Linked DNA regions of Homo sapiens: regions 2, 3, 4 and 5 are each reported to be linked to region 1. The links are microRNA targets in miRTarBase. Many come from high-throughput screens and were not tested one by one. Region 1 holds a microRNA gene; each other region holds the end of a gene's coding sequence.
Evidence for each region. Region 1 holds the annotated microRNA hsa-miR-342-3p (UCUCACACAGAAAUCGCACCCGU, at 2,564-2,586, shown strand). A microRNA usually pairs through its seed, bases 2 to 8, with sites in the 3' UTR of a target mRNA and lowers its output. Matches are read on the target gene's strand: a 7mer-m8 pairs with bases 2 to 8, a 7mer-A1 pairs with bases 2 to 7 and ends in A, and an 8mer does both.

Region 1 (5,103 bases):
GTCCCCACATCCAGCAGTTTTCCATTAAACCACTGTAGGTCCTCTCAGAACTTACTAGAGTCATCGTGTCATCGTCTCCCATTACTCCAGGAGAGCAGGGCCCTGGTGGCACTTGAGGCAAGACCCCAAGCTGATGGCACTCGACCACATAGTGGGAGTGAATTTTAAAGAAAATCCCCCTCAAAGCCTCTGCTGGTGTAGAAGGCAGATAGTCTAGGCCGGGGTAGGGCCAGTGAGTGGGAGCCAGGGAAGGAGGCTTGGGTGTCATGAGACTGGGTTTACATTTACAGATGACAAAACCAAGACCCAGTGAGGGGGAGGATGTGTGCAGGCCACAGGACAAGTCTGAGCAGAACCATGGCCACGCCCAACGTTCCTCCACTAGCATTCCCTCATGAAAGATCACTTTTTCCAGGCCAAGGACCAGAAAAGGACCAGGCTTTAGGAAGAGGGCCGAGGTGCATGGAAAGCAGTGCTGGTGAGGAGAGGGTTGAGTAACTGGATTTTGACTGTTTCTTCGCATTTGGTTCTCACTAATGAAATCTTGTCAGACGTGCCCCTGCTGCTGGATTGGGTGGGGGTGGGACAGAAGCATGTGTGGTCAAAGGCAAGTTTATTTGCAGTTTGGGGGTTGAATGCAGTGGATTTCAAACTGGATATTTTGAGGAGTTCCAGGGGTCCACCAAGGTATACCAGGGTCCTCGCCCTGATGCAACCAGAGTAGTTCTTCATCGACTTTATACAGTGGGACTCTGAAGAAAAGAAAAAGGAAAACCCCATAGCTTAGTGGGAATCCGGGCGAATTAAAACACAGGATGAAGTGCTTGTTCTCTTTGGCTCTTGGAGCATAATGTATGTCCTTTTCCTACTTGGTTTGCGTGTAATAACATCATTGGTATATTTCAAAATATGAAGCTCCTGGTGCTGGATAATAAATGTTTTCCCAGTTTTTCAACCTCTTATGTCCTTCATTGATGCCCAGTGGCCCAGGGGCTGCACCTTCAGCACAGTGTTGAGAAAGAGCCCCGGAAAGGGACTTACAGGCAGACCTTCCCGGGAAGAGTCAGGCCCAGCTCCATGTGCTCTTTGGAGGGGAGTGGAAGGTTGTTAAACCTCATAGCTCTTGGAGGTGGGGCTGAATTTTGCTTCTTGTAAACCTCTTTCCATTGGAAATTACCTCTTTCTCCCCTAAAGAGAAGGAAGTACTGGACTGTCTTCATCTCCCTGGCTGCCGAGGCCATTTGACACCTTGTGCCACCTGAGAGAAAGCAGGCCCAGCATGGCCCTGCCTGAGGGGAACAGGACGGCAAGCCCCTGGCCTCCTGCCTGCTCCCAGCTGCCCTCTGGCGGCCACTTTCTGAAAGCCGGATATGTCTCTTTGCTGACCCACCCCTGTTCTCACCCCAGGGCTCCAGATGTTGTATCAGGCAGGGCCTTTGTACGCCTCCATGCCAACAGCTACCCAAGTCGCACCGTCAGTCACACTCTTACTCAGGCTCTCCTGTGCCCCTGGCCCTTCTTCCCCTCTCACTTTTCCCCACACTTCTAAAATCTCACTCGTCCTGTCAGAATGTGGCTCCACAGATGGAGCCTTTCCCAGCCGCCCCGCTCCCTGTGACTTTGCACTCCCTCCTGCACTCCCACGGGGCTTTATTTTTGCCTCTGTCCTAACAGTCAGCTGCCACTTGGCCTGTCCTGCTATTCCCACTGCATGAATCTAGTCAGGTTGGAAATTCAGAAAGTGGCCTCTTTGTCTCTGGACCCCAAAAACCCACACATCGTCTGCCTTATAAGCTCTCAGTATATCCATCCCTGGCTGCAGGAACACACCAGGACCCAGAGGCTGCCGTGCCTGGAGCCCTGTCTCCTGACTCAGCCCAGGCCCCAGCTCAGCATCGAGGTCCTGTGGGACCATGTCCAGCAGTGAAGGCTGTGCATTGGCCTGAGCCCCTGGTCCCTCTGACTCACTGGCTCCCATTTTCACCACCTGCACTGCATATTCTCACCGTCTCTCCCCTGACACTCTCTCCCCTGAAGTGTTGTAATGGGGTTGTAACCCATCCACCTTCTCTTGTCCTTCTTCAGTCTGTCCTCCCTGGGCTGCGTCTAAAGGGGCCCCGCCCCTGCCCTCATGCATGTTCTCTCCATACTCCTGGTCACCTTCTGCTCATCCTTTGCCCTGCTGTTGTGAAGCCTTCCCAGTGCCCCAGAAGACCTCAGGCACCCCTTCCCAGTCCTCGCACACTGTTGGTGTCCCATTTGTTTGGACCCTGGGTTTGTTTGTCTAGACTGTGAGCTCCTCGAGGGCAGGTGTCTGTTTCTGTGTCTCGGGAGCCCTGAAGAGAGACTGACACATCAGAGGTGTCTGGTGACTGAACAAGCTCCCAGCTTGCGCCCATGTCATATTGTGTGCCTCTCATAGCCTGGCACTTCCTGCCATTGCATCCTTCTCTGCAGACTAAGATGGAGTTCCTGAACCAAGACCGCTTGCTGGCCAACCTGTGAAACTGGGCTCAAGGTGAGGGGTGCTATCTGTGATTGAGGGACATGGTTAATGGAATTGTCTCACACAGAAATCGCACCCGTCACCTTGGCCTACTTATCACCACCCCAAACAGAGGAACACGCCTTCTCCAGCCACAGCCTATGGAAGGGCCTTCAGCTGCTGTGGCCCCGAGGTGTGCATACTGTGGAAGGAACTTCGGACGTGAACTCGGATCTGGTTCCAGTACCAGCTGTGCCAGGAGTGTGCCCTTGGGCATGTCACTGACCTAAGACTCAGTTTCGCCATCTGTGAAATGGCTGAATCAGACTCACCTCACAGGGTTGTTGTGAGGGTACCATGAGATGATGTTTGTAAACATTCTTTGTCACCTCTAAATTACTATAACAGTTTGAAGTTACTCTTTTTAAAAAAATTATTTGCAAAGGTAACTAACAATATCAGCCGTGCACAGTGGCTCATGCCTGTAATCCCAGCACTTTAGGAGGTCAGGGGATCACTTCAGTGTGAGAGTTCGAGACCTGCCTGGTCAACATAGCAAGACCCTTGTCTCTACAAAAGCATTAAAAATTAGCTAAGTGTGATGGCGTGTGCCTGTGGTCCCAGCTACTCAGGAGGCTGGGGTAGCAGAATTGCTTGAGCCCTGGAGTCTGAGGCTGCAGTGAGCCATGGTTACACCACTGCACTTCAGCCTGGGCAACAGAGCAAGACGCTGTCTCAGGAAAAAAAAAAAAAGGTAACTAACAATATCAACTCCTGTGTGGTGCCAGCAGCCATCACGTTGGGACACAGAGGGAAGCCAGGCTTCTTGGATCCTGATGGTCAGAGAACACTTTCTGAGGGAAGCGGGGCTTGAACCTGGGCCCTGCAGGGCTGGGGGTGAATGGGGGGATCTGATGAGGAGGAGGACGGCGGCACCAGCAGATCTTGGTGGTTTGGAAGTTCAAATCAAGATCTGAGAAGAGGCTCTGTCTGACCCTGGGGGTCTCCCTCGGCACATTGGTAGTACTGTGCATGCCTCACGGGTGCCCCTAATTTCAGAGCATCCCACCTGCATCCTGCTGCTGCCATTGTCCTCCTCAAAAGAGCTGCTGGCTTATTGCAGTTTACATCCTAGAGAAGAGAGGTCTCCTCCTTCCACCAGTCCCAGGATTATCTCCCTAACGCTAATGGCGAGATTCCTTTGGAGTTTTAGTCTTCTGTAGATACAGCCCAGGCGCCATGTGCCCAGTCAGGGTTTGAGATAGGTGGTGGTTCATTCCCCAGCCTTGCCTCACCAGCACCTTCCTGACGCCTCCTGGTAGGGCTCAGGAAGCAGCCAGCTGAGGTGTGCCTGCCATGGTCAGCACAGTGGTTGACAGAAGTGGCACAGATTGTGGGGGCAGGTGACAGGGTACCATGCCCTAGCTCCAGGCACCCGCTCCACCCTGTCACATGGAGCAGCTGTGAAACCTTGAGCAAGCCATTTCACCATTCTAAGCCTTAGTGTCCTCATTTTTTTTTTTTTTTTTTTTTTTTTGTGATAGAGTCTAGCTCTTGTTGCCCAGGCCGGAGTGCAGTGGTGCAAACTCAGCTCACTGCAACCTCTGCCTCCCAGGTTCAAGCGATTCTCCTGCCTCAGCCTCCCAAGTAGCTGGGACTACAGGCATGCGCCACCACGCCCGGCTAATTTTTGTATTTTTAGTAGAGACAGGGTTTCACCATGTTGGCCAGGCTGGTCTTGAACTCCTGACCTCTGGTGATCCACCCACCTCGGCCTCCCAAAGTGCTGGGATTACAGGTGTGAGCCACCGTGCCCGGCCAGTTTCCTTGTCTTTAAAATGGGTGTGACAACCACCTCACAGAGTTGTCATGAGGCTCAAATGATAAAATAGATGGGACTGTGATTTGTAAGCATATGGCACAGTGAATGCAAGTTGTTCCTGGAGTGCCCAATCCCTAGATACTGGGATCTCACCCCTCAGTCGTAGCCAGAGTCATTTCATTCTGGTGTGCCACCACCCAGAGCTAAGCCGTATACTCCTTACAGAAAGGAACAAACCCCTTCCTGGATGCTCTTGTGCCTGGATCTTGGCTCCCTGAGATTGCAGGGAGATAGCAGGAATTACTTTCTCCATTTTAAGAAGGAAGAAACAAAGGCTCACAGTGCTAAGAAACTTGCCCCAGGCCACTCTGGTGAATGCAGAGCTTAAGGCCCAGAGCCCAGATGTTCTGATTTCCAGTCCAGGTCTCTGCCCAGTGGACCAGACTGCCTCTCAAAAGACCCTGCTCAGCTGGCAGCCCCCCAGCTTTCTAAACTATAACCCGGCTTGGTCAGAGGTTGATTATTATAAACACTTAACCTGCCCCATCTTTCTAGCCACATACCCACATCTTCGAAAGTGAGGGAAGAATTCATTCACAGCTGTTTTCTTTTTTCCTCGCGTAGCGTGTATCATTTCTTTCCTAAGGAAGGAGTTTTACAAGTAGCCTCCTGCCAGCTTCAGCTCATATAGGATAAAAGCCAGCTCAAATATTTTGGTAGATAACTCCGGAGACTCAGAAAGCCAACTGCTGAACTTGAGATACAGTTTCCAGTTTGAGAGTGGACAGGCTGCGAG
Region 2 (5,103 bases), not on the chromosome of region 1:
TCTTTTTCTACCAACATAATATTAGTAGTCAGATGTAAATGACACTGGCTAGAAGGTAATGTTCAAAACTTTTGCTTACTTTTCCAGGAAGATGTGGATGCTGGACAGATTATTTTGCAAGAAGCTGTTCCCGTGAAGAGGGGTGATACTGTCGCAACTCTTTCTGAAAGAGTAAAATTAGCAGAACATAAAATATTTCCTGCAGCCCTTCAGCTGGTGGCCAGTGGAACTGTACAGCTTGGAGAAAATGGCAAGATCTGTTGGGTTAAAGAGGAATGAAGCCTTTTAATTCAGAAATGGGGCCAGTTTAGAAAGAATTATTTGCTGTTTGCATGGTGGTTTTTTATCATGGACTTGGCCCAAAAGAAAAACTGCTAAAAGACAAAAAAGACCTCACCCTTACTTCATCTATTTTTTTAATAAATAGAGACTCACTAAAAACAAGACTAGTTAGTGCAGCATATCTGAGACATACAGTTTTCTTGGTCTTTTTTATGCTCTTTTTCTAACCGTCACCCCCTCTTTTTTTTTTTGGTATTGCCTGACAACATGATGAATCACCTCCATGTTTATAAGTTTTATGTTTTCAGCTGGGCACAGTGGCTCACGCCTGTAATCCCAGCACTTTGGGAGGCCGAGGCAGGCGGATCATGAGGTCAGGAGATCGAGACTATCCTGGCTAACACAGTGAAATCCCATCTCTACTAAAAATACAAAAAATAGTTAGCTGGGTGTGGTGGTACGCACCTGTAATCCCAGCTACTCGGGTGGCTGAGGCAGGAGAATCGCTTGAACCCAGGAAGTGGAGGTTGCAGTGAGCCAAGATCATGCCACTGCACTCCAGCCTGGGCAACAGAGCGAGACTTGTCTCAAAAAATAATAATGGGCTGGGTGCGGTGGCTCACACCTGTAATCCCAGTACTTTGGGAGGCTGAGGCGGGCAGATCACGAGGTCAGGAGATCGAGACCATCCTGGCTAACACGGTGAAACCCCGTCTCTACTAAAAATACAAAAAAAAAAAAAAAAAAAAATTATCCTGGGTGTGGTGGCGGGCGCCTGTGGTCCCAGCTACTTGGGAGGCTGAGGCAGGAGAATGGCGTGAACCCGGGAGGCAGAGCTTGCAGTGAGCTGAGATCATGCCACCGCACTCCAGCCCGGGCGACAGAGCGAGACTCCATCTCAATAAATAAATAAATAAATAAATAAATAAATAAATAAGTTATGGGTTTTCTGATCTTTGATCATATGCTTTTGAAGCCATGACTGCTGGATGTATCTGAGTTAAAATGAGGAAAAGAAACATGAGGACAAACCCAAGTGTATCACCTGGGTTCCGTTTATAATCTTGGTTATAGATTCCGGTGTGTAAAAGTTGCCCAGCCTCCTTCTGATCAGTGTCAAGTGACTATCTCTTCCCCAAGTCTAACAAGGCAGTATCTCTTCCTTATATTGTATAGCTGATTTGAGACTTTTCCGACCATCGTGATCATAATCTGGTGTGTTAAGATTTCTGGATAGCTCCCATTTCTGAAGGATAGTATCCTTTATGCTTTGAAGTATCATTAAACGTTCCTCTAATTATTGACAGTTTCTGTAATCCCCAGATTTTAGCTTCAGTAAAGTTTAATTATCCTGTGGTTTATAAAGATCCATACTTCTCTGCAAGTCACTAGAGGATTAGGGGGAGAGTTGGTGGCTTTTAGATTCAAGCATAAAACTTTAGGCACATTTCTCATCCACTGTGTCTCTCTATTCCCTTGTCAATTAAAGTAGGCAAATATCATTCATATAGTTGTTTTGATGAGACAGTCTCACTCAGTCACCCAGGCTGGGGTGCAGTGGCAAGATCTCAGCTCACTGCAACCTCTGCCTCCCGGGTTCAAGTGATTCTCCTGCCTCAGCCTCCTGAGTAGCTAGGATTACAGGCATGCACTACGACACCCGGCTCATTTTGTATTTGTGGTAGAGACGGGGTTTCACCATGCTGGCCAGGCTGGTTTCCAACTCCTGACTTCATTTGATCTGCCTGCTTTGGCCCTCATAGTGCTGGGATTACAGGCGTGAGCCACCGCACCCGGCCCTCCTTTGGCCTTTTTAAAACCAAAATTGTCTTTACCTCCCAAAGTGTTTTTCAGCAATTCTAATGCATACATTTGCCTCCTCCACTGTTTAAAAGAGACCATCTCTGACAGCCATTCTTTCACAAGCCATGTAAATTTTACATTTACCACAGTGTTAGATCATTTTCCTTTATCTGGAGCCAAATGTTAATTAACAGTTAAAAACTGATTCATAAGTGGAGACAATGCAAATGTTCATCAGCAAATGAACTGATAAATATATGGATAAATATATCCATACATTGAATACTATTCAATTATAAAAAGGAATGAAATACTAACACATGCTACAGTGTGGGTGAACCTTGAAGTATTATGCTAAGTGAAAGAATTCAGGGCCAGGTGCAGTGGCTCAGCTCTGTAATCCCAGCACTTTGGGAGGCCGAGGCAGGCGGATCACGAGGTCAAGAGATCAAGACCATCCTGGCCAACATGGTGGAACCCTGTCTCTAATAAAAATACAGAAATTAGCTGGGCGTGGTGGTGTGCACCTGTAGTCCTAGCTACTAGGGAGGTTGAGGCAGGAGAATTGCTTGAATCCGGGAGGCGGAGGTTGCAGTGAGCTAACGCCCCTGCACTCCAGCCTGCCAATAGAGCGAGACTCCGTCTCAAAAAAAAAAAAAAAAAAGAATTCAGTCATAAATGACCACATGCGGCCAGGCATGGTGGCTCACACCTGTAATTCCAGCACGGGGGGCCCAGGTAGGAGGATCAGTTGAGCCCAGGAGTTCAAGACCAGCCTGGACAACATAGTGAGACCCCCATCACTACAAATAAAACAAAAATTAGGCATGGTGGCACACACCTGTAGTCCCAGCTACTTGGGAGGCTGAGGTAGGAGGATTCCTTGAGCTCAGGAGGTCGAAGTTTCAGTGAGCTGTGATCGCACAACTGTACTCCAGCCTGAGTAAGACGTTTTCTCAACAACAACAACAACACCAAAAAAAAAGACTGGCTGGTCTCGGTGGCTCATGCCTGTAATCCTAGCACTTTGGGAGGCTGAGGCAGGCAGATAACCAGGTCATGAGATCGAGACCATCCTGGCCAACATGGTGAGACCCCATTTCTACTAAAAATAAAAATAAGCGGTTGGGTGCTGGTGGCTCACGCCTGTAATCCCAGCACTTTGGGAGGCCGAGGCGGGCGGATCACGTGGTCAGGAGATCGAGATTTCCTTATTAAATGTTTCATGGCAACATGGTGAAACCCCGTCTCTACTAAAAAAGTACAAAAAATTAGCCAGGCGTGGTGGCGGGCGCCTGTAGTCCCAGCTACTCGGGAGGCTGAGGCAGGAGAATGGCGTGAACCCGGGAGGCAGAGTTTGCAGTGAGCCAAGATCGCATCACTGCACTCCAGCCTGGGTGACAGAGCGAGACTCCGTCTCAAAAAAGAAAAAAGAAGAAAAAATAAAAATAAAAAATAAGCTGGGCGTGGTGGTGCGCGCCTGTAGTCCCAACTACTCAGGAGGCTGAGGCAGGAGAATTGCTTGAACCTAGGAGGCGGAGGTGGCAGTGAGCCAAGATCGTGCCACTGCACTCCAGCCTGGTGACAGAGTGAGACTCTGTCTCAAAAAAAAAAGACCACATATTATACAGTTCTATTTATATGAAATGTCCAGGCTGGGTGCAGTACCATACACCTGTAATCCCAGCACTTTGGGAGGCCGAGGAGGGAAGATTGCTTGAGTCCAGGAGTTCCAGACCAGCTTAGGCAACATAGCAAGAAACCATTTCTACAAAGAATAAAATATAAAAATTAGCCAGGTGTGGCTATGTGCGGTGGCTCAGGCCTATATTCCAGCACTTTGGGAGGATGAGGCAGGGGGGTCACTTGAGGTCAGGAGTTCGAGACCTGCCAGGCCAACATGGTGAAATGCCATCTCTACTAAAAATACAAAAATTAGCCGGGCATGGTGGCCCTTGCCCGTAATCCCAGCTACTCTGGAAGCTGAAGCAGGAGAACCACTTGAACCTGGAAGGTGGAGGTTGCATTGAGCTGGGATTACACCACTGCACTCCAGCCTGGGTGACGGAGTGAGACCTTGTCTCAAAAATAATAAGAAGTAGAAGAAAGAAAGGGCCGGGCGCGGTGGCTCACGCCTGTAATCCCAACACTTTGGGAGGCCGAGGTGGGTGGACCACTTGAGGTCAGGAGTTTGAGACCAGCCTGGCCAACATGCTGAAACCCCATCTCTACTAAAAATACAAAAATTAGCCAGGCATGGAGCATGTGCCTGTAGTCCCAGCTCCTCGGGAGGCTGAAGCCTGCAGGAGGACTGCTTGAGCCCTGGAGGCGGAGGTTGCAGTGAGCCGAGATCACGCCACTGCACTCCAGCCTGGGCGACAGAGGGGAACTTCGTCTCAAAAAAAAAAAAAAAAATTAGCCAGGTGTGGTGGCACACACATGTAGTCCCAGCTACTTGGGAGGCTGAGGTGGGAGGATCACTTGAGCCTAGGAGGTTGAGTGCAATCGAGCTGAGATCATGCCACTACACTCCAGCCTGGGCAACAAAGTGAGACCCTGTCTCTAAAACTAATAATAATAACTGAGGCCGAGCACGGTGGCTCACGCCTGTAATCTCAGCACTTTGGGAGGTCGAGGCAGGCGGATCACTTGAGGTCAGGAGTTCAAGACCTGCCTGGCCAAAATGGTGAAATCCCGTCTCTATTAAAAATACAAAAATTAGCTGGGCATGGTGGCAGGTGCCTCTAATCCCAGCTACTTGGGAGAGTGAAGCAGGAGAATCGTTGGAACCTGGGAGGTGGAGGTTGCAGTGAGACGAGATGGCACCATTGCACTTCAGCCTGAGTGGCAGAGCAAGACTCTGTCTCAAAAAAAAAAAAAAAAAAATCCTAATAATAATGAATAACATTTAATAAGGAAATGTCCAGAATAGGCAAATCCAGAAGACAGAAAATAGATTAGTTGTTGCCTAAGGTGGATAGAGGTATTTGGGGTGACAAAAAAAGGGTACAGGGGTTT
Region 3 (5,103 bases), not on the chromosome of region 1:
TGTGGGCTGCCCCACGTAACTCTTCAAGCTAACCTCCTTCTGCTCCTCCAACACAGAAACTTCTACTTACCTCAGGGCCTTTGCACTAGCTGTTCCCTCTGCCTGGAACTCTGTTCCGGGAAATCATCTTGGTTCACCCTCCTTCATGTCTTTCAGCTCTCACCATTCTAGCTAACGTTGACCCCCACTCCAGTCTCTAATATATCATTGCTTTATACCCTTCATAGCCCTATTTGCATCTGAAATCATCTTAGTTGTTTTAGGTCTGCCTTTCACTCTAGAATGATGGCTGTTGGGAGTTTTTAGTACCCAGCAGAATGCCTGAGTCCGAAGTAGGTGGTCTACGTGAAGAATGATGAAAAGAAGAATGACACATGAGAAGGAAGAAGGCAGAGACCACTTTAGAGAAAGTCTGGAGGTTTACTCAACAACGTTCACAATCACAATTGTACATGGTAAATCAGTCTTTCACAAAGGCTTATTTTTCCAGGCAGGAGGAGAGGCTGGTGGTCTTGAGCTTTTGGCCTGGAATTCCAGTCTGAATTTTCAAATATTCCCTGCCTCCAACCCCTTTGGGATCCTAGTCTTCAAGCCAATAACAGAGCAGGAGTCTGACCCTGTTCTGTTGCCTGGCACGGCTGAATCAAAGCCATTCTGGAAGCAGATGTTAAGGTGAACTTGTCACTTGGTATGTAGGTCCGACTCCCATCCCAGAGGTGGCAGTGGGCCTTGGCTCAAGATCAAGTTTGAACTAAAATATTACTTGGATTTTTCACAAAGAGTGTCCGTTGAAAGCAATAAGGAATTCCAGAACAGAACTGCACTTCTTGTCCCTCTCTCACACTTACAAAGCTTCAGAAAACATTAAAAATGCATTACCTCCTAGGAATTACAAAAGATCACCCAACTGTACAAACTAGATATCGCTGAAGCAGAGACTCTGATTCCTCAGTTACTACTGTAAAGTGCTTTGCCACTCTTTTTGAGACTCCAGAGACTAGGAAAATGGAGATGCACAGAGAGACATAAGGAGCTGTTTTCCAAGACATCACCTGTTTCTTAAGGAAAAAAAGAAATTCAACTGGTGGGAAGTTTGAAAAGTGAATGTCATGTAGACTTTGGAAATCCATTTGTTACATCTTTAACAGAAACTGCTCTTTCTCTCCTGGACCGAATGTCACATCCTCTCGTCCGATTCCTCCTGTGGATGTACCCCGTTCTGCCTGAGCATTTTTTCCTAAAGGGAAGAATCAATAGTTTCTGACTGTTTTAACAGCTGAAAGCTCCAACTGGAGGCAGAAGATGGGATGGCTTTTCACACACGTGCGTGCAAGTTTAGCCACCTCCAAAGGCCTTGTTCTTAAAGCAACAGTGCTGTTTGCATTATGAAATGTCTCTGGAGTTCCCCTTTGGAAAGGCTGCTGGTGGGCCACATGGTCACGATACTTTCAAGTCACACCCTACTTTGTGACCTTATCCTCAGAGTAAAGGCTTTAGAGGAAAAGGGACCCCACAGTCTCACCCATTACCTGGCTGTCAGCATCTCCATATGCTCCTGGCTGAGTTTTATTGAGCATCAGCTGGGGATGTGAGCAGAAACCTGAATCCTTGAGACAGGTGGTTTTCAAAAAGGAAGCCATAACAATGAGTGGCTTAGTACTGGCAATTGATCAGTTGGTCCATGAAATGGAGCCAGTCAAGTTCTGTCCTTCCTTCCCCTCCCACATACTTTGTCAAGTCCCAGGACCTACTGATATGGGCTCAGCAATGACAAATGCCAGAGTGCTCAGAGGACACACCCATCCCTTTTCAGGGTGTGAACCCAGACTGGAAAGGAGAACCAAAGGATGGGAAAGGCAGGCCCGGGACGGCTTGCTGCTGCTCCTGCTTTCACAGGAATCCTGGTCATGCCAGGAACACTGCCGCCCACTTGGGGTGGGACTATGTGGAAGTCTAGCTAGTGCTCGGCACCCCTTAACCCAATGGTGAGAAACAGGACAAACATGCTGGGGGTTCAGAGGGTGGACCGCAGGGATGGCCCCCAAACAGGTCCCAGTGAGGTAATGCAAGGCCTCCTCTCGGGGGCTGATGAGGTCTTCTAGGCCACAGACTAAACGCACTGCCCAGCCTTTAGTTTGGAGTGTGACTTGCACTGACTGAAATAAATCTGACCTGTCACCCTTGGGGGACATCTCAGTCTCAGATCTTGCTCCAGACCCAACATCTCCTGCTTGAAATGAGACATTAAGAAACACACACTCATCCAGTAGGAACTGCACACACCACCAAAAACGTTCCCCTCCCCACAACCCTGCCCCTTTATGTTTGTCTAGCAAGGCACTAGGAAATGGTTCAAGTTTAGGGATTTGCTCTATATTTGCATTTTTCTTTTTAAAAGGCACAGTTTTTATTTTAACGACGCTGCATTGCTCTTTGATGATGAATCTCAATTCGACTCCTCAAACTGTCAACACTCTTGTTATCCTAGATTCTAGAAGGGGCCTCATCTTTTGACTTCTTTCTATAGAGGGCCACTTCTAAAGCTACAGCACTCATTTGGAAAAGGACACTGGGATCAACACGTAAGCGTTGCAAGCACAGGGGCCGCCTCTCTTGCAGACAGGTGGCCAAAGCAGGGCTTGTGCTGGGCCAGAAGTGGAAGTAATTCCTCGCCAGCTACACATTCAGTCTGACTGGTGGATGATTGGGAGTGTTTGTCCCTCCCTCCCCCAATAATTGATGGCCTTGAGATCTGCCAGCATCTCAAAGGCAGATTCGTGGCTCTGTTCCCAGACTTAGGTCTCAGTTATTTAATTGGTAAATGACACAATCAAGAGACTCAACACTAATTGGAATGCTGATTTCAAGTATTTCCTGGGCTAGCTGGTGGAAGCCATAGATTGTGGAATGTGATTTCCATTTCTGAATCAGTGGGTGGCAGGTTGGTTACAGAAATGCTTCCTATTAGTCTGGAGGCCCTCTAGGAGTCTGACATGTAATTAACAAAGCAAAAGGTAAACATGAAGGGCTGGCATGGAGCTGGGTGTATATCTGGCTGTGGGACGTCGGGTTCTTTTCTCCACTGCAAATGAGACTACAGTTGTGATGATGGTGGGAGGTTCCAGGGGTGCAGGTCTTCACCAAGGACCATGTTGTACCACAGCCTCTGCTGAGCTGAGGGACACATGTCCCCCTGCTTTCCCAACACCACCAACTTTGGATTTCACAGATTGTCTCTAGGCTGGGGGCTGCCTTGACTGTATTACACCTGGCTGGCTCCTTTAATCACAGCATTCTAGAAATCCATATTGGATGTGGAATACCAGAATCCTATGTAGCATCCTAGTTTGCAATCCAATTATAGAGTTCTTTAAAAATTCTGGAGTTCTGTATGAGAACTAGAACCATGATGAGGTCAGAGGCAGGCACTTTGCCCACAGTTGATCCTGGAGGCCTCCAGACTCTGTGAGGTGAGCACCTCGCAGCACCTCTGTTCCTCTTTTGAGGCCAGTAATTGCCTGGGGAAGAGAGACAGGGAAATGGAAGCATGGATCAGGGCAAATCAGCCAGCATTTCTAGTTTGGAGGTCTACCTGGCCTTTTCCGTGGGCTCAGGGCCATCTGAAACACTGCCCTGTAAAGCTGGTGCTGGGCTGTCCTTGTGCCTGGAGAGTGCTAAAATTGACATTTCAAATACCCAGAGAGCAGGGGGAGATATCCCGCATGTCCATAGCTGCAAAGAAATGTCTAGGGGGGCTCCCTCTTCTGACTCCTCACCTGGCAGCTGATCAGCATTCAATACTGAACACTCTTAGGGCCCCAAGTATGGCCTTTGACCGGACCAAATCACCTGGGGTTGTGACAGAGAACAGAAGCTGTGCAGTAACTGCAATGTTCCCCCCAGGACGGCAGAAACTAAAAAGCCCCAAGAGGACTTCTTTCTCTTCTGCTGCAGATGAGTGGCATCGATACTAAAAGCTGCCCCAAACAGGCAAATTTTACCTTTGTTTCTAAAGCACCATCATGTAGGAGAGCCATCTGAGGGCTGGGCAACCTCGCAGGACTCACTTTTGGGTGGCCTAGGCTACCTTGGTGTTCTCCCACATAATGTTCAAGGGGACATAGTGACAAAGTTGAAAAGGCTCTGTTGCTTTTCCGTGATGTCAGCAGGGATTAAAGCAGTCTCTGCTCCCTGTGGGGCCTCTTGTGGGATATGCTCTTCACCCTACCCCCACAACTCAGGGGCTCAAGGACCAGGCAGACCCCAGCCCCTGAATCAAGAGCCCTCTTCACCCTGAACCATTTGGCCAGCACCTTTTACACCTAGTGCCCACAGGGGCCCTGCCTCCCTTGAAAGAGGAAGTCTGCAGTGAGTGCCAGACCCTGGGGGGCCTGCCAAGGGGACATGAGGGCTCAGTTCCTATTGAATTTTTCCAAGACTGTTGAGTTGGTGTGTTCAAACAGCCACTGCTGGGTGAGAGAGGATGGGTTGCAGGTGTTCATGAAGATCCTATGGTCACTTTCACTGCAGTCCATGCAGCTGCCACTGACAGGGTGGTACAGGGTCTTGTCCTACAAAACATGGAGGTAATAAGCCAGACAGCACTGGAGACATGTGGCCAGTCAAACCACAGCAACAATACCAGCAATGAGAAAGTGAGGAAGTGACTGACTGACTAGCTGTTCATACACCTGTTGGTTTTCCTCCTGAGCTCACAAGCCGGATGCTGCCCAGCCTCCCTTGCAGCTGGTATTGCCGTGGGACTGGGTTCTGCCCGCTGGGATGTGGCCAGAAGTGATGCACGCAGCTTCCAGGCCTGGGACCTAGACACTGCCCACCTCCTGTCAGACCTCACTGGTCCTTATCGTGTGTGTGTGTGTGTGTGTGTGTGTGTGTGTGTGTGTATGTGCTTTCCTTTTATCTTTTATTTTTTTAATTTTTTTAATTTTTTTGAGACAGGTTCTCACTCTGTCACCCAGGCTGGAGTGTAGTGGCACAATCTTGGCTCACTGCAACCTCTGCCTCTCAGGTTCAAGTGCTTCTCCTGCCTCGGCCTCCCGAGTAGCTGGGAGTACAGGCATGAGCCACCATGTCTGGCTGATT
Region 4 (5,103 bases), not on the chromosome of region 1:
CTAATCCAAGTTCATAGGAGGTTAAATCATTCTTCATTGTCTTTCACTCTTTAATAATGGGTAGTTCCTCTTTGAACCATGAACTTAAAAACACTTCTAAAAATTAAGAAACTGGCAATGAGTTTATTCCTTAACAAACACTGTGTTGGCATGAGGTGGGGAGGTAAATCACTCGCTACTTGATTTATCCATGTTGAGATCACACTAAGACAGTGTCCTGTTTCTCACACAGGTTACCTGCTACTTGGCCTTATTGCCATGTTGGTAGTTCTGGAAACCTTCTGTGAACTCCATGAGCTGAAAAAATTCAGAAAAATGTTCTATGTGAAGAAGGACAAGGACGAGGATCAGGTGCACATCATAGAGCATGACCAACTGTCCTTCTCCTCGATCACAGACCAGGCAGCTGGCATGAAAGAGGACCAGAAGCAAAATGAGCCTTTTGTGGCCACCCAGTCATCTGCCTGCGTGGATGGCCCTGCAAACCATTGAGCGTAGGATTTGTTGCATTATGCTAGAGCACCAGGGTCAGGGTGCAAGGAAGAGGCTTAAGTATGTTCATTTTTATCAGAATGCAAAAGCGAAAATTATGTCACTTTAAGAAATAGCTACTGTTTGCAATGTCTTATTAAAAAACAACAAAAAAAGACAAATGGAACAAAGAAGCTGTGACCCCAGCAGGATGTCTAATATGTGAGGAAATGAGATGTCCACCTAAAATTCATATGTGACAAAATTATCTCGACCTTACATAGGAGGAGAATACTTGAAGCAGTATGCTGCTGTGGTTAGAAGCAGATTTTATACTTTTAACTGGAAACTTTGGGGTTTGCATTTAGATCATTTAGCTGATGGCTAAATAGCAAAATTTATATTTAGAAGCAAAAAAAAAAAGCATAGAGATGTGTTTTATAAATAGGTTTATGTGTACTGGTTTGCATGTACCCACCCAAAATGATTATTTTTGTAGAATCTAAGTTAAACTTACTATTTATAATGCATAGGTAACCATTAACTATGTACATATAAAGTATAAATATGTTTATATTCTGTACATATGGTTTAGGTCACCAGATCCTAGTGTAGTTCTGAAACTAAGACTATAGATATTTTGTTTCTTTTGATTTCTCTTTATACTAAAGAATCCAGAGTTGCTACAATAAAATAAGGGGAATAATAAACTTGAGAGTGAATAACCATAGTATTCTGCTGCAATAAATGTTTCTACCCTCTTGCGATAGAATGGTGTCAGATGTCTAACATGTTTATAAACATTTTTTTGAATTGAACAGGTTATGAAAAGGATTTATTAAAAGGTTAAGATACTTTGTTTTGAAAGTACATTGTGATTTGCAGCCACCTAGCACTAAAGCATAGAACTTAAACACGAATCCCTAAATGAACAGATTATGTTACATTAATCTGAGAATTTTAAATTTAGAAGCTAAAATAAATAAAAATCACAGCTGGTTGTAATCTTATGCTTTCATATATCAGAAGTGTGCCTCTATGTAGAATATATATACATATGTGTGTGTATATACATATATATATGTATGTATATATATACATATGTATATATATATATATGTGTGTATATATATATATATATATACGTATATATATATATATAGTCCTTCATAGAAAACATAAAGGTCACATTTAGATGACGTACACAGGATACTATTATATTAAGGATTTTAGAAAAGAAAATGAGAAAGCCCCTGTGTGATAATGAATGTCCACTGACCCCCGCAATGGAGCCTTACCTCCCATGGGTGGCTGCCCAGGAGTTGGTGGTTGAGGGGCTGGTAAAAATCAGTGCAAAATCAGCGCCCTCTGATGAGCCAGCCAAGCACTTTGATCGCGGGCCAGTCTCCTGACAGTGGGTCACTCGCTCAGTAACCTTCTACCTTCTGTACCATGTGCTGCCATGAGTAAATTATTACCAACTGCAGGGCAAAGGGAAAGCATCCCCTTACCCTTCGGAAGATTTGCTGAAAAATCAACTCACAAAAAGGCAGATTAATGAGAAAAGGCATACACATTTATTAACTACCATGCACACAGAAAGAATTACAGAGTGATTGTCCAATATCTCAATAGGGGTTCACATGCTTAAATATCTTACTGATTAGAGGACAGGGAGATGGAAAAATATAGGTGATTTTAGAGGGATAGTATATGATTTTTAGAGGAATCCAAGTGTGCTGCCCCGTAAGCATATTTCCTCCCTGCTGACCATGTCCCTGCAATAGAAGACTGCTGTCATGAGGCCAGATCATTGGTTAAGGGTAGAATAGAGAATCCTTGGAGAATAGAGGCATGCATCCTGCCATAACTGGATCTGCAACATTTCCGATGGTCACAAGCCTTGGTGTGGAGCAGAGTCCTGAGATGCTCATCAATATAAATCACAGAAGCTGGATTACACTTGGAGAGTGTTATTCTATTTTATGCAATGCAGGAAAAAATAATGGCTAGTTTGCTACAGCTGCTTGGCTCTAACATGAGAGGGAAGTTCAAAGTCCAGAAAATGAGGAAGTACGTGAAGAAAAACTTCTGAATCAGATGTGATTAATAAGTAATAGAGTGTAGTACTTAATTTTAGGAACTCGTTTGAATCCGCAGAGAACACATTAAACCTTAATGCCCTTCAGATTGTTGTTAATGTGAAGGGCAAAGTAGAAAAGTAGGAGCAAGTTTTGCCTCGGCCCCCACCCTAGCAGGCAGGAAAGTAAGGGAGGATGTCTTCCCCAGGGTTTCTTTTTGTCTTTGGCCGATGATGCTGCCCTTTGGTCCCCAGGGAGAAGCGAGCTTGGTCACCCAGGAGGAGCTCTGGGTCAGCCTCTCAGAGAACAGAAATTCGGCTTGCTGCAGGCATGACAAGGAGGTGGAAGATGAACAGTGTAGCTAAGCCAGAACTGACCTTGGGAACCCTTTAGTTGGAGGCGAGAGAGTGGGAAGTTGGAGGTAAAAGTGACTACTAGAGAATTCTGGGTGATGAGTACAAGCTGAACTCACTTGCTTAGCTTGAGCCTTCAAGATTGAGTTCCTAAGATGCCTGCGGAATGCCCTCAGGGTAGAACAGCAGCAGAAAGCCTTATCATTCCAGGACATGGTCCTGTGCGTGAACTTAAATGTGACACGTGTCTGGTAGGGATGTTGATTTCAAAGTAGCAGATACACTCCACGTGAGGAGAGAACACAGAGTATCTCAGAGTGGGAGTTCCTAAGCTCTCAGAAATCCAAGGGAAGAGAGACCAAGGGGTGGGAGTAGTCTCTAAATGAATCATGTAAAAGATTCCCAGGACAGATAAAGTTTAGCCCAGATCACTCCATTTATGACACTGGTTTCTTTCTATAGTAGTCATGCCACCAAGATATTTTGAAAGTATTTGTTCAAAAGTTGAAGAAGACAAGTGGGAGAAAAAAGAAACATTTTCTGAAGACAGAAATTTGGTCTGACTTCAAAAAAAATCGAGTAATGTTTAGATTACTGACATGGGGTCACTTTTTTTTTTACCTGAGAAAAAAATCACACTCATACTTTCTCCAAACCAGCTTTATGGGCCTTTTGGAAAATGAATGAGGAGATATTTACAAATCTGGAGACCTCAAGATAACGGAAATAGGCAATGCAAAACCTTCTTAACTCTTTAAAGTACACTGACCTCTTACTAAAAACAGCTATTTGTTTCAAAGAAGAAAAGTTTTAAATTGGCAGAAGCACATGTTGGAGAATTAGAACAGTATTATCTGTCTCTTATTCAGAATTCAGTGAGAGCAGAGCCTCCTGATTGTCTGGCATAATACATTTATTTTGGTATTTGTTGTTGTTAAAGCCTCCATGCTGGGAAGAGCTGTGATAAATACTGATATCCTCAATTTAGGAAGGCAGTCCCTTTAGGATGTAGTTTCAGCAATGTATATATGGCAAATTTAGAAACAAAAGTTTCTTAGCAACTTATAGTTGAAATTGAAATGAGACAGTATACCATTTACTTTATTTGACTATGCCAAGTAACTTTTTAAATCTGTCTCTGTAGCATGTTTGAGATTTTCCTATTGTGACTTTTTTTTTTATTTTGCAAGGGTCTTACATTGTGGAAATTTGGTGCATCAAAGCCTTTTGTGTGAGGCAAGATGTAAAATTGCTGAAGTCAATTTTCCTAACATCTCTCTTATCTAATATGTACTGTCAGGCAAACTCAGCTTTTTGGAGTGCAGTAAAGGACCCAGAAGTAAATAAAAATGCTTTTTAAAGTATTTTTCATGCCCTGGTAGGAAAGCACATTTAAAAAGAAGTAAGCCCTCTCTTTGCTTCACTCATGGCATACACATACTTACTTTGCACACAGTTCTAACAAAATTATTACTCTGTTTTTCCAACCCACAGAAAATAAAGGAGAGAGTTGTATTAAAAGGCAAATTTAAGACAAATTAATTCAACAGAGTTTATTTGAAATTAAAGGATTCATGAACTGGACAGCATTCAAAGCCTGAAGAGGTTCAGAGAATTTCACTGTAGCAGCAAGAGGTGTGGGGTTTTATAGGCGGAACATGCAAGCAAAGCAAAGCAATTGCTTGATTGGCTACAGCTACGTATTTGTCTTAATTGAATATGATCTACTGGAAAATCCCTGGGCTTGTTGGTGGTTTCTGACTGGTAAAGGTTTTTTGTTTGTTTGTTTAACTGTTTATGTTGAATTGGGCTTGGCTGGATTTGTTCACCTAGGAAACAAAGGGCTCTGAGGCCATCTCAGCCTAATGGCCTCTCAATTATTTTAACAATTGCTACCCAAATTTTGTGTCAACATAAATGACGTTACAATTTGTGGTGACACAATTAAAGAATTTAAAAGTCTCCATATGCAACTTGGCAATAATTACTGTGCAATCACTTAGGCGGCCTTAAAATAGTAAGCAGTCTCTCAGTTTCTGTAAAAGCATCCACAGCACTTGCACCATTCCCTTAGCATCCTGTGGCACTCAGCATCTGCGTAGAACAGTCTGACCACTCTATTTTATACTGAGAAGGAGAAATGGTCACACCCTCTAGAGACATGACCACCTGTCTTACTGAAAGCAATTTTTGACTAA
Region 5 (5,097 bases), not on the chromosome of region 1:
CCCTGTGGTGACAGGCACCCAGTGCTGGACTTAAGGGGCCACAAGCGAAAGTTGGCCACACCACCTGCTGCCCAGGAGTCATCCCGCCGGCGGTCCAGGAAGGGTCATCTGCCAGCCCCCGTGCAGCCGTATGAACACGGGTATCCAGTCTCTGGCGGGTTTGCCATGCCACCCGTCTCCTTAAACCATAACCTCACCACCCCCTTCACCTCCCAGGCTGGGGAGAACTCCCTGTTTATGGGCAGTACCCCCTCCTACTACCAGCTGTCCAATTTGCTGGCAGATGCCCGCCTGGTGTTTCCAGTGACTACTGACCCTCTGGTGCCAGCAGGCCCCGTCAGTTCCTCTTCCACGGCTACCTCAGTCACTGCCAGCAACCCCTCCTTCATGCTCAACCCTTCTGTGCCAGGGATACTACCCAGCTATTCACTCCCATTCTCACAGCCACTCCTGTCCGAGCCGAGGATGTTTGCGCCTTTTCCTTCCCCTGTCTTGCCCAGCAACCTTTCGCGGGGCATGTCTATCTATCCAGGCTACATGTCCCCACATGCAGGCTACCCAGCTGGTGGCCTCCTACGGTCCCAGGTGCCTCCATTTGACTCTCATGAGGTTGCCGAGGTTGGGTTCAGCTCCAATGATGATGAGGATAAAGACGATGATGTGATAGAGGTCACTGGGAAATAGCTAGGGAGCCCCTCCCCACCTCACTTGGGGCCCCCAGCAGGTTGCCCACCAAGCTGAAAGGCAGTGATTTAGACCTTTTGAGAATAGGACACTTGGCAGGAGGGAAAAGGAAGAGGACAAAGGAGGGTGGTTGGCCAAAGTGGCAGAGCTCTGTTGCTGTTTAACAAAAGAGGCAAAAAAAAAAAAAAAAAAAAAAAAGTCCAACACAGCAGCAATAGCGGGAAATCAGGGACCCAAAACAGGGATGGAGGGGCAGTGCAGCCTCTTTTCCTTCCTGCCTTGCTTATGCTGTCTGCTTGCTTGCTCGCCCATCTGAGTGTAGAAGCGCACATCCCATTTCTGTCTTTGGGAACATTCTTTCCCAAGAGAGCTGCCTTACTAGGTGACTTAGCTTGGCCTGGGGAGGGGAGTGAAGGAAGGGAGAATGAGTGAGAGAAGGAGGGTGGGTAGGGGGAGCAGACTGTGATCCCATGTGAAGTGGGGTCTTTTTAGGGGGTGGGAAGGAAGCTGACCAGGTATGTGTGTTTGTGAGTGTGTGTGTGTATGTTTATTTTGTATGTGTATGTATGGAACAGAGCAGGGGTGAAGGTGGGAGGGGAGGGAGGGAAGAACTAAGAGGGAAACTGAAAAATGAATTTATCTTTCTTTAAATGGAAGTCAGTTTGGTGGTTCATGGCACCTAGTGTGAACATCAGGGTGAGCCCAGAAGAGCCATGGAAATAACAAGTTTCCTTCGGGATGGGTGAAGAGAAGGCCCAGCTAACTCAAGTCCCTGGTATTCAGAGCCACATTTGTGTGAGAATTTGGGGAAATTCATGAGAGAAAATGGGCATTACCAATCTATGTCTCTTAACCCCGGTGGCTATCTCTGAGCAGCTCTCCCTTTCCAGCTTGGAAGGTTGTCTGTGTGCAGAGGCTGGGAGGGAGAAGCACTGCAGTACGTGAATGAAAGGTCGCAGAGTTGTGGCTGGAAAATACATTTTTCACCAGGGTAGAACTGAGCCCCCAGCTGCCTATCCTGGTAGTCTTTTCTGTTCCTTTCCTTCCCCTTTAGAGAGCTCCATGTTAATTTATTTCTTATGGGCAATTATTTATTACTTGGACTTTTCATGTGTCTTGTTTATTTGGGGGTGGGGGGAGGTTAGGGGTAAGGAGGGTAGGTGATAGAAAGGGAAGTTTTAAGATATCCCAGACCCTATAGCCACTGGTGAAAAACAATCCTGGATGGATGGTAAATTGACCAGGGGAAGAGTTAGGTTTGACCAAGGTTTGGATTAAACAACTATATTTTTGAGAGATGGCTTTTCAGGAAGATCAGGGAATCCTGAGACTGGATAGTTAGTGGAGGGTGGGACTCATTCCACAGAAATCGAAAGTTGTGATCATGGAGTTTGCAATTGGGAAGTAAGAGACCCCAGATTTGGAGCTGTGTCCTCCTGGGATGATGTTAGATGTTGGCTCTCTATGCTGAATAGTGAAGCTGTGGATAGGCGGTTGCTGGGTTGAGGGACTGTTGATTTCATGTTCGAAAATATCTTCAGGTGGTCCATGTAGGCCTGGTGTCTGCTGCCTCCATCTTTGAAGGAACATGGAGGAGCCCTTTCTCTGTAGGAGCCCTAAGTCTGGGTTTTATCTTAAAAGAACACACCAGTCATTCTGGGTCTCCCCTTATTGCCATTGCCAGGGGAGGGTCGTCTAGTCCTTAAGCATAAACACTGGCTGTCTTCCTACTGGTGTCCCCGCCCCCTCTGTATCCCCCACCCCAACACTTTGCCAGACAGTTCTTTATGATGAACAAACTTTGGCTTTAGAGCTTTACCACTTACCCATGGCTCCCTCCTTACTGGGCAGGTGGTGTACCTGCCTCTTCCCAGCCCAGAAGGCAGCTTAGTCAGGTCATCCCAGTAGTAGCTCCTACAGCTCTTCTGACCAGCCCATTTCCATCTTTGGAGGGCCTTAGCAGACTCTGGGGTATTGTCCTCAGAGAAGAGACAAGGAGATGATGGATGGGGTGCATGTGTATATGTGTGTTTGTCTGCTGTCCAATAACACCAAAAGTGGAACTTAAGAAGCTTTGTGTTTTCATAAGCACCCTGCCAGACACTTAACTCTTCTACTCATGGAAGCCTTAGATCTACAATTTAGCTATGCAAATTATTTTAATAATTTAAAAATAGCAGTTCCAACCAGTGCTTTCTCTTTCAGATGCATCCCAAGAATGGATGGTGAAGGGACTCAGTTGGAGTGAGCTCTCAGGTTGAGGCTGGTGCAGTAGGAGTGAGCTAGACTGAATCTCCAATTTATGGGACACACTCAGAACCTGGGTTACACTGATGCCTCTCAGGCCCTGGAGCACTGGGATCCCAGAGATGCATGTGTGCATGTGTATGTCTGTGTGTGTGTGTTGTCGGGAGAAGGGGGTAGTATTTCTGTGTTCACTTCTAGGAAATCACTGTACTAGCCTCCAAGAATCCGGAAACCTTCCCAGCCGGGAACTGAAACCATTCCCTGGAGGGATGGGCTTGGCTTTTGAAGTTGACAGAAAGTAAATGGGTATTCTGAGAGGCAGCACATGCCTACTGTCTATCCAGTGTTCCAGGGACTGGGTCTTGCTTCTACTCAGCAGAGGCCATCATTCTGGGAGGCTGACCTGACTAGAGAAGGCTTTCTTTTATATGTGCAGTTTCTATTGTGTAGAGGGGTTGGGGGTGGGATCATGGGAAATTGGAGTGCTACCAGGTCCATGGTTTTTGCTTTTTTTTTTTTTTTTTTTTTTTTTTTTTTTTTTTAAAGAAAATAACCTGAAAACACTTCTGACTTTTCCACTGTCTCTTTATATGTGCTGATAGGCAAATGTGCATGCACACCAAACATAAGCATGTTTGTGAGGGAAGCAGGAAGTATCTCAGAGCCTAAGAACCATGTTTTATAGTTTCTTTGATCATAAACACTTGGTGGTGTCTTCCACCCATTATCCAGGCCTGAGGGGGGCAGGGTGGCTGGTGATAAGAGGGAGGGCAGAAAATCAGGCCTAGGCGTTTTCCCTTACCATTGTCTTCCATGGAATGTTTTCAAGGGCCTCTCAAGCCCCATTCATCTGGTTTAGCCAAGTTCTCAGCCTGGGGAACACAGTACTACTTAATGATTGAGGTTTACCATTTATAGTGATGCTTGATTTCCTTTTCTTAATATATTTGTAGATAAAAATTGAACAGGGACAAAGTAGCTATTTAAGAAAGGAAGTGAACCATGTTGGGTCATATCATTTTCTTTAGATTGGATATCTATGAAGTCCACACCCCTTTGAGTTATGCTTTTTAGGCATCTATCTCATCATCTCCTGATTTAAGGATAATTCTGTCTGGTCCTTGGAGCTCTCTTCCCTAGGAATTAGTGTGTGGAGTCTCTATATGCTTGTGATCCTTGGAGCTCTCTTCCCTAGGAATTAGTGTGTGGAGTCTCTATATGCTTGTGATTCACAACTAAATATGAAATTTCTCAATTCAGGAGCAGGAAGCAAAGTGCTGGGGTACAGTTTTGCAGATTGGTTGAAACACTTAGCCAAACTTAAGTGGCCTGGGTAGGACCATCACTCCCAAAGTTGTCAGCAGAGAAGGGCCCTCTGTGTGAGTCTATTCAAACCTGGCATTGCTCTGAAATTGAGTCCTCATCCCATGGGGAAGGTCTTCTGGGGGCTTTACATTCCTTGTTACTAGTGTTCTGGATATTACCTTCTGCTTCCCACTTCCTTTTTTTTTTTTTTGAGACAGAGTCTTGCTCTGTCACCCAGGCTTGAGTGCAATGGTGTGATCTTGGCTCCGTGCAACCTCCACTCCCGGTTTCAAGCGATCCTCCTGCCTCAGCCTCCCAAGTAGCTGGGATTACAGGTGCACACCACCATGCCCAGCTAATTTGTATATTTTTTAGTAGAGACGGGGTTTCACCACGTTGGCCAGGCTGGCCTTGAACTCCTGACCTCAAGTGATCCACCCTCCTCGGCCTCCCAGTGATGGGATTACAGGCGTGAGCCACTGCTCCTGGCCCCCACTTCCTTTTGATTTCTCAGATCAGTCTTTCCCTTCTGAGCCATGGCCTTCTGTGCACCCAGCTCAGTGGCTCTTCACCCCTAAAACTAAGTGAAGTCATCCTTCCCCAAAAGGACCCCTGGGAGATGTTCTGGCCCTCTGCTGACTACTCCCAGGAATCAGCACCTCAAGGACTATTTGAGAATGTTGTGCTCTCTATTGGTCACCTTGAGACTCCGTTCCCCTGCTGCCAACTCTTCTCTTCTGCCCTGTGTATTCTGCTGTGATCCCCTTAACGGCTTTTCTGTGCTACTAGCTTAGCCCTAGGCCTTTTATGAATACCTGAGTCTTATAACAATGAACTTCTTGAGCAGGCAGTGTCCAACTT

Region 2: the mRNA of GART is a reported target of hsa-miR-342-3p. The part of its 3' UTR that is shown has no 7-base or 8-base seed match.
Region 3: the mRNA of GALNT10 is a reported target of hsa-miR-342-3p. Seed matches in the 3' UTR shown: 8mer at 837-844.
Region 4: the mRNA of KCNK1 is a reported target of hsa-miR-342-3p. The part of its 3' UTR that is shown has no 7-base or 8-base seed match.
Region 5: the mRNA of RAD54L2 is a reported target of hsa-miR-342-3p. Seed matches in the 3' UTR shown: 8mer at 1,478-1,485 and 7mer-m8 at 4,309-4,315.

What each region holds. Positions count from the first base shown.
Region 1 is chr14:100,107,152-100,112,254 of GRCh38, forward strand. MIR342 (microRNA 342) reads left to right here and starts at 2,504; the gene lies at 2,504-2,602. The region is part of intron 3 of EVL (Enah/Vasp-like); the gene reads left to right. It overlaps MIR151B (microRNA 151b), which reads right to left and starts at 2,363; the gene lies at 2,268-2,363.
Region 2 is chr21:33,499,300-33,504,402 of GRCh38, reverse strand. It overlaps GART (phosphoribosylglycinamide formyltransferase, phosphoribosylglycinamide synthetase, phosphoribosylaminoimidazole synthetase), which reads left to right. Exons shown (of 22, transcript NM_000819.5): 22 at 88-470. The coding sequence ends at 279. Among named protein-coding and RNA genes, the nearest start is that of DNAJC28, 10 kb to the right of the region's middle.
Region 3 is chr5:154,416,282-154,421,384 of GRCh38, reverse strand. It overlaps GALNT10 (polypeptide N-acetylgalactosaminyltransferase 10), which reads right to left. Exons shown (of 12, transcript NM_198321.4): 12 at 401-4,571. The coding sequence ends at 4,413. All of the region lies in intron 2 of SAP30L-AS1 (SAP30L and GALNT10 antisense RNA 1), which reads left to right. Among named protein-coding and RNA genes, the nearest start is that of SAP30L-AS1, 27 kb to the left of the region's middle.
Region 4 is chr1:233,671,039-233,676,141 of GRCh38, forward strand. It overlaps KCNK1 (potassium two pore domain channel subfamily K member 1), which reads left to right. Exons shown (of 3, transcript NM_002245.4): 3 at 233-1,476. The coding sequence ends at 492. Among named protein-coding and RNA genes, the nearest start is that of MIR4427, 49 kb to the left of the region's middle.
Region 5 is chr3:51,662,737-51,667,833 of GRCh38, forward strand. RAD54L2 (RAD54 like 2) reads left to right here. Exons shown (of 23, transcript NM_015106.4): 23 at 1-5,097. The coding sequence ends at 684. Among named protein-coding and RNA genes, the nearest start is that of TEX264, 6.0 kb to the right of the region's middle. RefSeq lists an enhancer at 1-451.